Regions from separate parts of the Homo sapiens genome. Here region 2 is linked to region 1. Evidence: fine-mapped expression QTL. A gene starts in region 1. The other region holds a variant in brackets. All regions are shown on one strand. Distances are from middle to middle.

Evidence for each region. PIP is the estimated chance that this variant, and not a neighbour inherited with it, causes the effect.
Region 2: its variant is fine-mapped to the expression of SLC25A1 in whole blood (INTERVAL, PIP 0.96).

Annotation. Positions count from the first base shown.
Region 1 is chr22:19,175,609-19,180,978 of GRCh38, forward strand. It overlaps SLC25A1 (solute carrier family 25 member 1), which reads right to left and starts at 3,128. Exons shown (of 9, transcript NM_005984.5): 1 at 2,972-3,128; 2 at 2,525-2,632; 3 at 2,334-2,433; 4 at 2,119-2,257; 5 at 1,512-1,596; 6 at 1,238-1,342; 7 at 970-1,085; 8 at 813-886; 9 at 1-636. The coding sequence starts at 3,065. The coding sequence ends at 522. It overlaps CLTCL1 (clathrin heavy chain like 1), which reads right to left. Exons shown (of 33, transcript NM_007098.4): 31 at 5,123-5,198; 32 at 4,591-4,630; 33 at 3,865-4,361. The coding sequence ends at 4,611. RefSeq lists enhancers at 1-175, 2,426-3,173 and silencers at 2,345-3,424, 3,625-3,724.
Region 2 is chr22:19,090,619-19,095,988 of GRCh38, forward strand. All of the region lies in intron 1 of DGCR2 (DiGeorge syndrome critical region gene 2), which reads right to left. LOC124905078 (a long non-coding RNA gene) reads right to left here. Exons shown (of 2, transcript XR_007068002.1): 2 at 4,069-5,370. Among named protein-coding and RNA genes, the nearest start is that of DGCR2, 29 kb to the right of the region's middle. The variant AGAG/A (reference allele first, on the strand shown) is at 2,279.

The DNA of each region.
Region 1 (5,370 bases):
GGCAGGGTGGTCCTGAGAGTGGTGGGTGCCACCCTGTCCGGGGCGGAGAGAGGGCCCGAGGGCCAGTTAAGGCCAATGGCGGGAGAAGCAGGGGGCTGCAGCCCCTGGAATGCGGTGAAGCCAGGCCGAGGCCCGGAGGCAGCTGTGGTAGGCCAGGGCAGGGTGGAAGGCACCGGACTGGGACCGGGCCAGGGCTACAGGGCCGAGGACCCAGGCCACACGGGCACCCCGGGAGGCGGGGCACAGGGTCACGTGACACAGAACATGAAACACAGGCACAGGGTCATAGGCCAGATGCACATCCAGCCATGGCTGGGCCAGACACTGGGACACAGTGGTGGTGTCACACACAGACCACAGGGGGGACACATGGATTTGACAGCCACAATGCACAGACCAGGCTACAGAGCTCGAGGGACGTGGGAAGGGGCCTTTTGGCACTACTGCACTGGAATCGTGAGACAAAGGTAGCAGGACACTCTGGCGGTGCCTGGGGCGGTCCCCTTGCGGCCTCTCTAGGCTTAGTCCGTCTTCCACACTTTGTTGAGCAGCTTCACCACTTCATCATAGATGACAAACACTATGGCCACATCCAGGCAGACCCGGCCCAGGCGGGGGACAGTGCCCTTGTAGAATCTGGGTGGGAGGAGGGGCGGGGAGAGGAAGGCAGGTCAGCACAGTGTCCCTGCACAGGGCAATCCCCAGATACTGAAGTGAGAGGCACAGAGGCCTGAAGGGGACAGAGTGGGCAGGCCAGGTAGGCCGGGAAAGGTTTGAGGTGGGGACAATAGCCCTGCCCCTCCCCCACTCACGCCTTGAGCCCCTCCTTCTTCAGGATCTGCAAGCCGCAGTCCCACGTGTTCCGGTATTTGTGCGCCTCCAGGCCCTATGGGGGACATCAGCAGGCAGGGGCTCAGCAGCTAGCTCTGGCCTGGTCCCCCCTTCCCCTCCCCTTCCCGGCCCCACCACCTGCATCCGGGTCTTAATCACATCCAGAGGAGTGTTTCCAAAGACACTGGCTGCGCCTGCAATAGCTCCGAAGACCCCAGTGATCAGAGGGTTCATGGGCTTGTTGGGGTTGTCCCCTGGATATAGGAGGGGTGAGGTGGGTCAGAGGGTGCCGGGAGGGGCCTGGATCAGCACTTCAAAAGGTGGGTGCCCGCCACCCAGGGGTGGCCCCAAGGAGAGGAGAGGAGCTGGCCATGTGCAGAGATGGGGCCCTGTGATGCAGACACACCTCGGTACCAGTTGCGCAGGGAGGTCATGACGAAGAAGCGGATGGCCTGGTTCGAGCCCTGCTTCAGGACAGTGGCTGTGAGGCCCTGGTACGTCCCCTTCAGCCCTGCGGGAAGGCAGGCACGGGGTTACCCTGCAGCCTCTCAGGCCCCGGTTGGGAATTGGTGTGTGTGGGGGGTGGGTGTTGCACAAAGCCCAAGGCAGGATGGGAGGTGCAGGCCCTTCCCACCCTGGCCCAGGTCCCTGAGCCCTATCAGGAAGGTCGAGTGGCTCACCTTGTTCCCGCACAATCTCCCTAACCCCGTGGAAGAATCCTCTGTACTTGGGGTTTGGGGAGGTCTGGTCGTGGATGAACTTCACCTGAGAGAGAGAAGCAAAGGCGCAGGTTCTCGGCTGCCACCTGGGTGGGTCCTGGCTAGCTGGCAGGCCCAGGGCCCATCCAGGGTGGAGGGAACTGGGAACTCTTCCCCAGGAAGCAGTGCAGCCAAGGCCGCCCTGGGCTGCCCACACGGACCATGCCCCGGGACACAGGGCAGCCCACACGGACCATGCTCTGGGACACAGGGCAGCCCTGTGAGCAGCCTCTCCCTTTATGTTTGCTGCTCTTTTCCAGTTTTGGCAGTGAAGGTGTCATTTTGTTTTCTGCTTTATAAAAGTATTTTTTAAAGACTTTAAGGCTGCCTTTAGCATAGACTCAGCCTCCACGGGTGGCCCTTCGTGGCAGGCGTCCTGCCCCAGGGCCCCGCGGTCACCCCGCCGGCCTTCCCTGGCGTCCAGGAGACCCTCCCCAGCTTGCCGGTTGCCCCGGGAGCACCGGGCCAGCGGGGCCGCCCGTCTCCGTACTCCCTGCGTGTCCGGGGTCCTCGCCAGGACCTTCCCCACCTTGATGGTCTCCATGGGGCACACGACCACCACGGCCTCGGCCACGCCAGCGCCCAGGCCGCACAGCAGCCCACGCGTGCTGTCCAGCCGTCCCTGGGCATCCCGCATGTGGTTGCTGAGGAACTCGAACATTCCAAACCTGGAGGCGGGAGGCGGGTGAGAGGGGCTGCCGCGGCCGAGCCCCCCTCCCGCAGCAGCCACCGGCCGGGCCTCACCTGACGGCCGCCTTGGGGATGGAACCGTAGAGCAGGGAGCTAAGGCCGCGGTACAGGCCCAGGACGCCATGGCTGCGAACCGTCTGCCGCACGCAGTCCCCTGGGGGAGGGGGCGGTCAGGACCCCACGGCCCTCGGTGCCGCCGCCCTGGGTACCCGCCCCCCGCGGCGCCGCGGCCTCCCCCTCCTCACCGATGCCCCGGTACCGCGGCGGGTGCGAGCGCTCGTCCAGCTGCAGCTGCGTCTTCACGTACTCGGTGGGGAAGGTGATGCAGATCTCGATGCCACCCGCCAGGCCGCCTGCAGGGACCGGGAACCCGCTCCTGAGACTCCCGCCCGGCCGCTGGCGCTCGGGCCCCTCCCCCGTCCCGGACTTCGGTCGGCGCGGCCGCCGCGCCAGTGCCGCGGGGAACATAGGCTGGGGCCCCACGCCCCCATGCCCTCACCCCGTTGTCCCGGCGAGGCGCAGGGGGTGACAGACGGGAGGCGGGCGAGTCCCAGCGCGCCGGGTGGGGACCAGGACCGCGCCTCCACGACTCCCCAGCCCACGGCCCAACCCGGAAGTGGGGCGGGGCCTCAGCGTCCCGGGCCCACCCAGAAGCGCGGCGGGAGAGGGGTCCGCGTCCCGGAGGGGCCCACCTGCCAGGATCGCCTTCCCCGGGTGCGTCAGCTTGGCCTTCCCGGACGCGGGCGCGGCGGCCGCCAGAGCGCGCGGGGCGCGGGGCGCGGGCATGGCGGGCGGGAGGCGGGGCGCCCTGTGGCGGCTTCGGGTCCGAGACTCCAGAACTCCGCGCTCGGTCCGCGGTGGCGGCGGCGGCCGGTTATGGTCCCAGGGGCGGGGCGGCCGCGTCAGCTCCAGGTCCCGCCCCGCGTGGTCCGAGCCAGGCCCCGCCCCCAGCCCGCCCCGTGCGGGCCGGGAAACTGAGGCCTGGGCGGGGCGCGCCGAGGCAGGCGTAGGGGCGGGGCCAAAGCGCAGCCAATGGCCGAGGCCGAGTCCCTGGGCGACCGCGAGCGGCGGGACGGGGGCGGGGCTGCGGGAGGCGGAGCCGTGGCCCAGCTCCGAGCAGTGGGTCAAGGTGCACTGTGTGCCGCGCCGCGGGATAGCGGGCCTCGGGTCTGCGCGACTGTCGAGAGCGGCGGGATCCCCAGGGATCCCGGAGGCCAGGGGCACACCCTCCCCGAAAACACGTGGGGCTAGCCCAGTCCCAGAGGAACTCTAACGTTTCAAACCTGGAGGCGGGAGGCGGGAGGCCGGTGAGAAGGGGCTACGCCGCCGGGCCCCCCTCCCGCAGCAGCCACGGGCCGGGCCTCACCTGCCGGTTCCCACCCACACCTTTCCCGGTTGTAGTTTCTGCGCTCAGCGAACAAGGTCAGGAAAGACCACAAATGCAAGCGGCTGTATTCTCCTAGGCAGCTTGTCTGGGCAACGGAGGTCCCACACCCCAAAGAGGACCCAGCAAATCTTTAATGGACTGCGGGGCCTAGGAAACTGGCCCGTCCCTCCTACCCATACCAGCACCAAGCAGAGCACCTTTGCCTGGATAAACCGACTTTAATATTTATGATTGCCAAGAGGCTGAGAGTCCTTTTATGAGGTCCGGTACCTCCAAACAAGACGTGTTCATGTAGTCTTCAAACTGGCCTGGAGGGGGCAGCTCCAGCCAGTCGGAGGCGCCCAGGAGGAAGGCCTGGCTCCAGCAGGAGGGCCCACAGTCCAGTCTCTGTTGTCGGCTAAAGCTGGTCTTGCGCCGTCAGCCTCTACCCTGGCCTCCCCAGGCTCTGGGATGGCTCAGAGGTTGCCGTCATTGGGTTTCAGCAAAAATAAATATTGTCCAGGTGTCCCTGCCTCCCATTGCGTCCCCTGTGCTGCTGGAGTGACATGCTCCTTGGAGAAGTTAGTAACTCTGCAGGTAGGGTGGGTGGTGACAACGCCCACTACACGCGGAAGTTGTACATTGGAGGCTGGCGAAGTTGGGAGCAGAGGCATATCCATAGGGGAAGCTGGCAGGGGCTGGGCCCACGGCAGGGCCTGCAGAGGGGGAAGCCCACAATGAGCAGAGCTCTTCCTGCCCATGGGGGTCCTCTCCTGGCTGCCCCTGAGTAGCCCGGGGCCCAGGGAGCAGGGTCTATAGGACCAGCCCTTACCACCCAGACGCTGAGGCCCCAAGAGAGCAGGCATCCAGAGGCAAGGAGCGTGGGGTCAGCCAGAGAACCTGGCCTGGCTAGAGGATAAGCTAGTCTCCAAATGGGACACTTACTTAGTGCAATCAGCTGGGTCTCATTCATGCCCATCAAAATCTAAAAAAACCAGAATGACATTAATGGTGGAAGGACACACTCAGCCGGACGCTGGAGACCCGCCGGCGTGCTGCACACTCACACCACACCCTCAGGCCTGTGTTTGCCCCACAGTGTCCAAGCACCCCACAGCCTCTCCAGTCTGCTCGACAGCCAGGCTGCCCTGGGCAGGTTCTCAGGTGCAAAGCCCCTCCCAGCACACACCAGCAGCAGCCTTGCTGTCCAGGGGCCAGGCCCAGCAGGACACAGCAGTAGTTCACAGCTAGGCAGGCACCCCTATCAGAAGGCAGGCATCCTTACAGCAGGGAGGACAGCGGCCGTGCCAACATTCCTGGGCGTACACTTCTCCACACCCAGTAGCCACTGGGATCCTTCCAGCCCCCACCCATCTATTCCCATCCCCATCCAAAGCCCAGCCAGGTAAGGGCAGTGGGACTTTGACTCCCTCCCTGCTCCCTCCCCAGGGGGTTGGGGGCTACAGGTGCCACCTACCAAACACGAGAGGGGCAGGCTCTGTCACATGCTCCTCTTGCTTGCGCAGACTCTCCAAGGCATCCAGTTTGTCCACCTGCAAGGAGGCAAAAGCACGTGAGCACCCGCTTGACAGAGTGCAGTCCGGCCTCTAGGTGAAAGTGGAGTGGAAGGTCAGGACACAGGGCCTCCAGGAGAATGACAGTGGAGGAGGTGCACATGGGCAGATGTGGAGTGGCTCAGCCCACACCCCATGCACTTTTAGAATG
Region 2 (5,370 bases), 85 kb before region 1:
TGACAATAGTAGCACCAAAGGTGGGAAGAGAGAAACAGAAGCACACTGTTTTAAGGCTCTCAAACTACAGGTAAAGTGGTCCATCACTTGAAGGTAGTCTATGATAAGTTAATGATGAACCCGACTAAAATAACACAAGAGTTGTGGCAAGTAAGCCAACATAGAAGAGAATAAAAAATAATCCAAAAGAAGGAAAAAAAAAAGACAAACAGATGGTACAAATGAAAACAAAGGGTAATATGGTAGATTTTAATTAAACTTGCCTAATCAATAAATACGCAGAACGATCTAAACACTCCAACTGAAAGGCAGAATTTGTCATGTAGGGAAAAAATCAAGATACAACTACATATTACCTAAAACAAACTCACTTTATATAGGCATAAATAAGAGAAAATAAAAGAATAAAAAAGATATACCATGTTAACACTAATCAAAGGATAGCTGGAAGGGCAGGTACATGGCTCATTCCTGTCATCTCCATAATCCCAGCATTTTGGGAGGCTGATGCAGAAGGATCACTTGAGCCCAGGAGTTCAGGACCAGCCTGAGCAACATGGCAAAATGCCATCTCTCTAAAAATACAAAAAATTAGCCGGGTATTGGGACAAACGCCTATAGTCCCAGCTACTCGAGAGGCTGAGGTGGGAGGATCACCTGAGCCTGGAAAGTTAAGGCTGCAGTGAGCTATAATCGTGCTACTGCACTACAGCCTGGGCAACAGGAGTGAGACTCTGTCTCAAAAAAAGGCTAGCTGGAGTGTATTAATATCACACAAAGTAGACTTCAGTGCAAATATTACCAGGAATAAAGAAGGTCATTTAATAATGATAAAGGGATTGATTCAAGAGGACATAATCCTAAATGTTTATGTATCTATTAAAATTTACAAAAGAAACTTCAAAATTCATGAAACAGAAACTACTGTAACTGCTAATAGACGAATCCACAATTAAAGTCAGAGCTTTTAATAACCCTCTTGATAGAACAAGCAGATAGAAAACCAGCAAGGGCTGGGCGTGGTGGCTCATGCCTGTAATCCCAGCATTCTGGGAGGCTGAGGCAGGCAGATCACTTGAGGTCAGGAGTTCGAGACCAGCCTGGCCAACATGGTGAATGGACAGGAGTTCGAGACCAGCCTGGCCAACATGGTGAATACTAAAATACAAAAATTAGTTGGGTGTGGTGATGCACGCCTGTAATCCCAGCAACGTGGGAGGCTGAGGCAGGAGAATCGCTTGAACCTGAAAAAAAAGGAAATTACAAAAGAAGAGCAAATGAAACCCAGCAGTAAGAAATAATAAAGATGAGAGTGGACATTACTGAAATTGAAAACAGAAAAATAGAGAAAATAAGAAAAACAAAAGTTGTTTTTTTGAGATCAGTAATATTAATAAACCTCTAGACAGTCTGATCAGCAAAAAAAAATAAAGAATACAAAATACCAGGCCAGGCATGGTGGCTCACACCTGTAATCCCAACACTTTGGGAGATGATCCAGCAGATCATCTGAGGTCAGGAGTTCGAGACCAGCCTGGCCAACATGGCGAAACCCTGTCTACTAAAAATACAAAAATTAGCCAGGTGTGGTGGCACATGCCTGTGGTCCCAGCTACTCAGGAGGCTAAGGCAGGAGAATCGCTTGAACCTGGGAGGCAGAGGTTACAGGAAGCCAAGATTACACAACTGCACTGCAGCCTGGGCGACAGAACGAGACTCCATCTTAAAAAAAAAAAAATACTACTATCAGAAGAGAGATGTCATCACTGTGGATTCCAGAGAAAGTATAAAGGCTAACAGAGGAGTGAAGAATAAGGTAATAGTATGAAAAACTTTATGTCAATAAATCTGACAATTTGGATGAAATACACAAATTCTTTGAAAGATGAAATGCAAAGTTCACTCCAAAATAAATAAACAATCTGAACAGCCCTAAAAGGAATTGAATTTTTAGTTAAAAATCTTCAAAGGAAACTCCAGGCACAAATAGCTTCAATGGAAAATTCCTCCAAATATTTAAGGAAGAATTGATGTCAATTCTATACAAACTCTACTGTAAGTTCAGGTATTTAAAAATTACCATTAACAATAGTATCAAAAAATAAGAAATACTTAGGTATAAATCTAACAAAAGATGTGAAGTCCTGTACACTGAAAAATTTTCAACATTGCTGAGAAAAAACATTTTTTAAAGACCTAGGTGCAAAGGCAGCTCCCTGAAGAAAGAACAGGCCTTTCAACAGAATGGTACTGCGAAACACGGAAGAAAGAAAAATGA[AGAG/A]GAGGAGGAGGAGGAAAGAAAGGAAGAAGGAAGGAAGGAGTTCATCTACAAAATGAAGTTAAAAAAAGGAGGAGGAAGAGGAGGAAGAAAGAAGAGAAGAAGGAGGAGGAGGAGGAAGAAAGAGGAACAAAGAACAACTACTTTGATCCATTCCTTGAACCGCATAAAAAATTCAGAATAGCCAGGCCCAGTGGCTCATGCCTGTAATCCCAGCACTTTCGGAGCCTGAGGCGGGTAGATCACCTGAGGTCGGGAGCTCCGAACCAGCCTGACCAACAAGGTGAAACCCTGTCTCTACTAAAAATACAAAATTAGCCAGGCATGGTGGTGCATGCCTGTAATCCCAGCTACTCGGGAGGCTGAGGCAGGAGAATCGCTTGAATCTGGGAGGCGGAGGTTGTGGTGAGCCGAGATAGTGCCATTGCACTCCAGCCTGGGCAACAAGAGTGAAACTCCACCTCGAAAAAAAAAAAAAAAAATCAAAATCGATCATAGGCCTACAGGTGAAGCCTAAAACTATAAAACTCAAGAGAAGAAAACACAAGAAGAAAATCTTCGCACCCTTGGTTTAAGCAAATACCTTTAATATATCTACCAAAAACACAATCTATAAAAAAAATTGATAAATTGGACTTCATCAAAATTGAGAACTTTTGTTTTTCAAAAGACATGTTAAGATAATGCATAGACAAACCACACACAGAGAGAAAACATTTGCAAATCATGTATCTGATAAAGGGCTTGCTTGTAACCAGAATATATAAAGCATGCTCAAATTTCAATAAGAAAACAACCCAATTTTTTAAATGGGCATGGGCCAAGTGCAATGGCTTATACCTGTAATCCCAACACTTTAGGAGGCCAAGGTGGGAGCAACACTTGAGCCCAGGAGTTCAAAACCAGCCTGTGCAACATAACAAGACCTCATCTCTACATTACAAAAAAAAAACAAAAAAATTAGCTGGGCTTGGTGACACATGCCTGTAGTCCCAGCTACTCAGGAGGCTGAGGCAAGAGGACTGCCTAAGCCTAGGAGTTGGAGGCTGTGGTGAACTAGGATTGCAATGCTGCACTCCAGCTTAGGCAACAGCAAGACCTCCCCAACTCTAAAAAAAAATAATAAATAAAATAGGCAAAAGATCTTAATGGTCACTTAACCAAGGAAGATATATACAGATGGCTAGCAAGCACATGAAAAGATGCTCAACGTCTAGTCATTAAGGAAATGCAAATTAAAGCATGAAAAGGTGGGGCACGGCGGCCCATGCCTGTGATCCCAACACTTTGGGAGGCTGAGGTGGGTGGATCACCTGAGGTTAAGAGTTTGAGACCAGCCTGGCCAACATGATGAAACCCCATCTCTACCAAAAACGCAAAAATTAGATGGGTGCGGTGGCGGGCGCCTGTAATCCCAGCTATTCAGGAGGCTGAGGCAGAATTGCTTGAACCCAGGAGACAGAGGTTGCAGTGAGCCAAGATTGCACCACTGCACTCCAGTCTGGGCGACAGAATGAGACTCCGTCTCAACAAACAAAAACAAAAACAAAAAACCATGAAGAGAAACCACTTACTAGAATGGCTAAAATGAAAAAGAATGACCATACCAAGTGGTGGCAAGTGTGTGAAGCAACTGGAACTCTCCCAGTGAAAATGTAAATGGTACAACTTCTTTGGAAAACAATTTGACAGTTTCTTTAAAAACTGAATGTATACCTACCATATAATCTGACCATTCCATTCCTAGGTATTTAACCAAGAGAAATGAAAGCATATGTCCACACAAAGACTTGTTCATAGTACTTTTATTTGTAATATCCAAAAGCTGGAAACAAACAGTGTCTATCAAGAAGCAAATTGGTAAGTTGTGTACAGCCATACAATGGAATACTACTCAGCAATAAAAAGGAATAAGCTATTAACACATTCCGCAGCATGGATGAATCTCAAAATAATTATATTGAGTGAAGAAGCCAGTATGTACTCAAAAGAATACCTACTGTATGACAACATTTATATAAAAATCTAAAAAATGCACTTGCAGCTATCAAGACAGAAAGGGATGGGGGTGGGAGGGATTACAAAGGAGCACGAGAAAATGTTTGGGGTGACGATACGCTGTGTTTGTTATCTTGACTGTGGTGACGGTTTCACAGATTTATACATATATGAAAACTCAAATTTGGCCGTGTGCAGAGGCTCACGCCTATAATCCCAGCACTTTGGGAGGCTGAGGTGAATGGATCACCTGAGGTCGGGAGTTCGAGACCAGCCTGACCAACATGGAAAAACCCCATCTCTACTAAAAATACAAAATTAGCCAGGCGTGGTGGTGCATGCCTATAATCCCAGCTATTCAGGAGGCTGAGGCAGGAGAATCGCTTGAACTTGGGAGGCAGAGGTTGCAGTGAGTCGAAATCACGCCACTGCTCTTCAGCCTAGGCAACAAGAGCAAAATTCTGTCTCAAAAAAACAAAAAACTTGGCCAGGCGCGGTGGCTCACACCTGTAATCCCAGCACTTTGGGAGACCGAGGCAGGCAAATCATGAAGTCAGGAGATGAAGACCATCCTGGCTAACACGGTGAAACCCCGTCTCTACTGAAAATACAAAAAATTAGCCGGGCGTGGTGGCGGGCGCCTGTAGTCCCAGCTACTCGGGAGGCTGAGGCAGAAGAATGGCGTGAACCCAGGAAGCAGAGCTGGCAGTGAGCCCAGATCGCGCCACTGCCCTCCAGCCTGGGCAACAGCGCAAGACTCCGTCTCAAAAAAAAAAAAAAAAACAACTCAAATTTTACACTTTATGTATCATTTATTATAAGTCAATTATACCTCAATAAGGCTTTTTTTAACTATCATGAAATAGATTTCTGTTTAAAAAATCAGGAAACAATTTTGAGATCAAAAGATACTGACCACAAGGCTAAAAATCCAGGCACCCTGTGTTCTAGGACTAGATATGCCTGGAACTGAAGAACTAAATTGAATCATGGCCCACCTAACGTGCTTGCTTCTCTGGAAAAGACAGCCTTGGCCTACCAGATCTCACCCCCGCCATCCATACAGGAGCTAGGTCCTTTTCATAATTATAAAT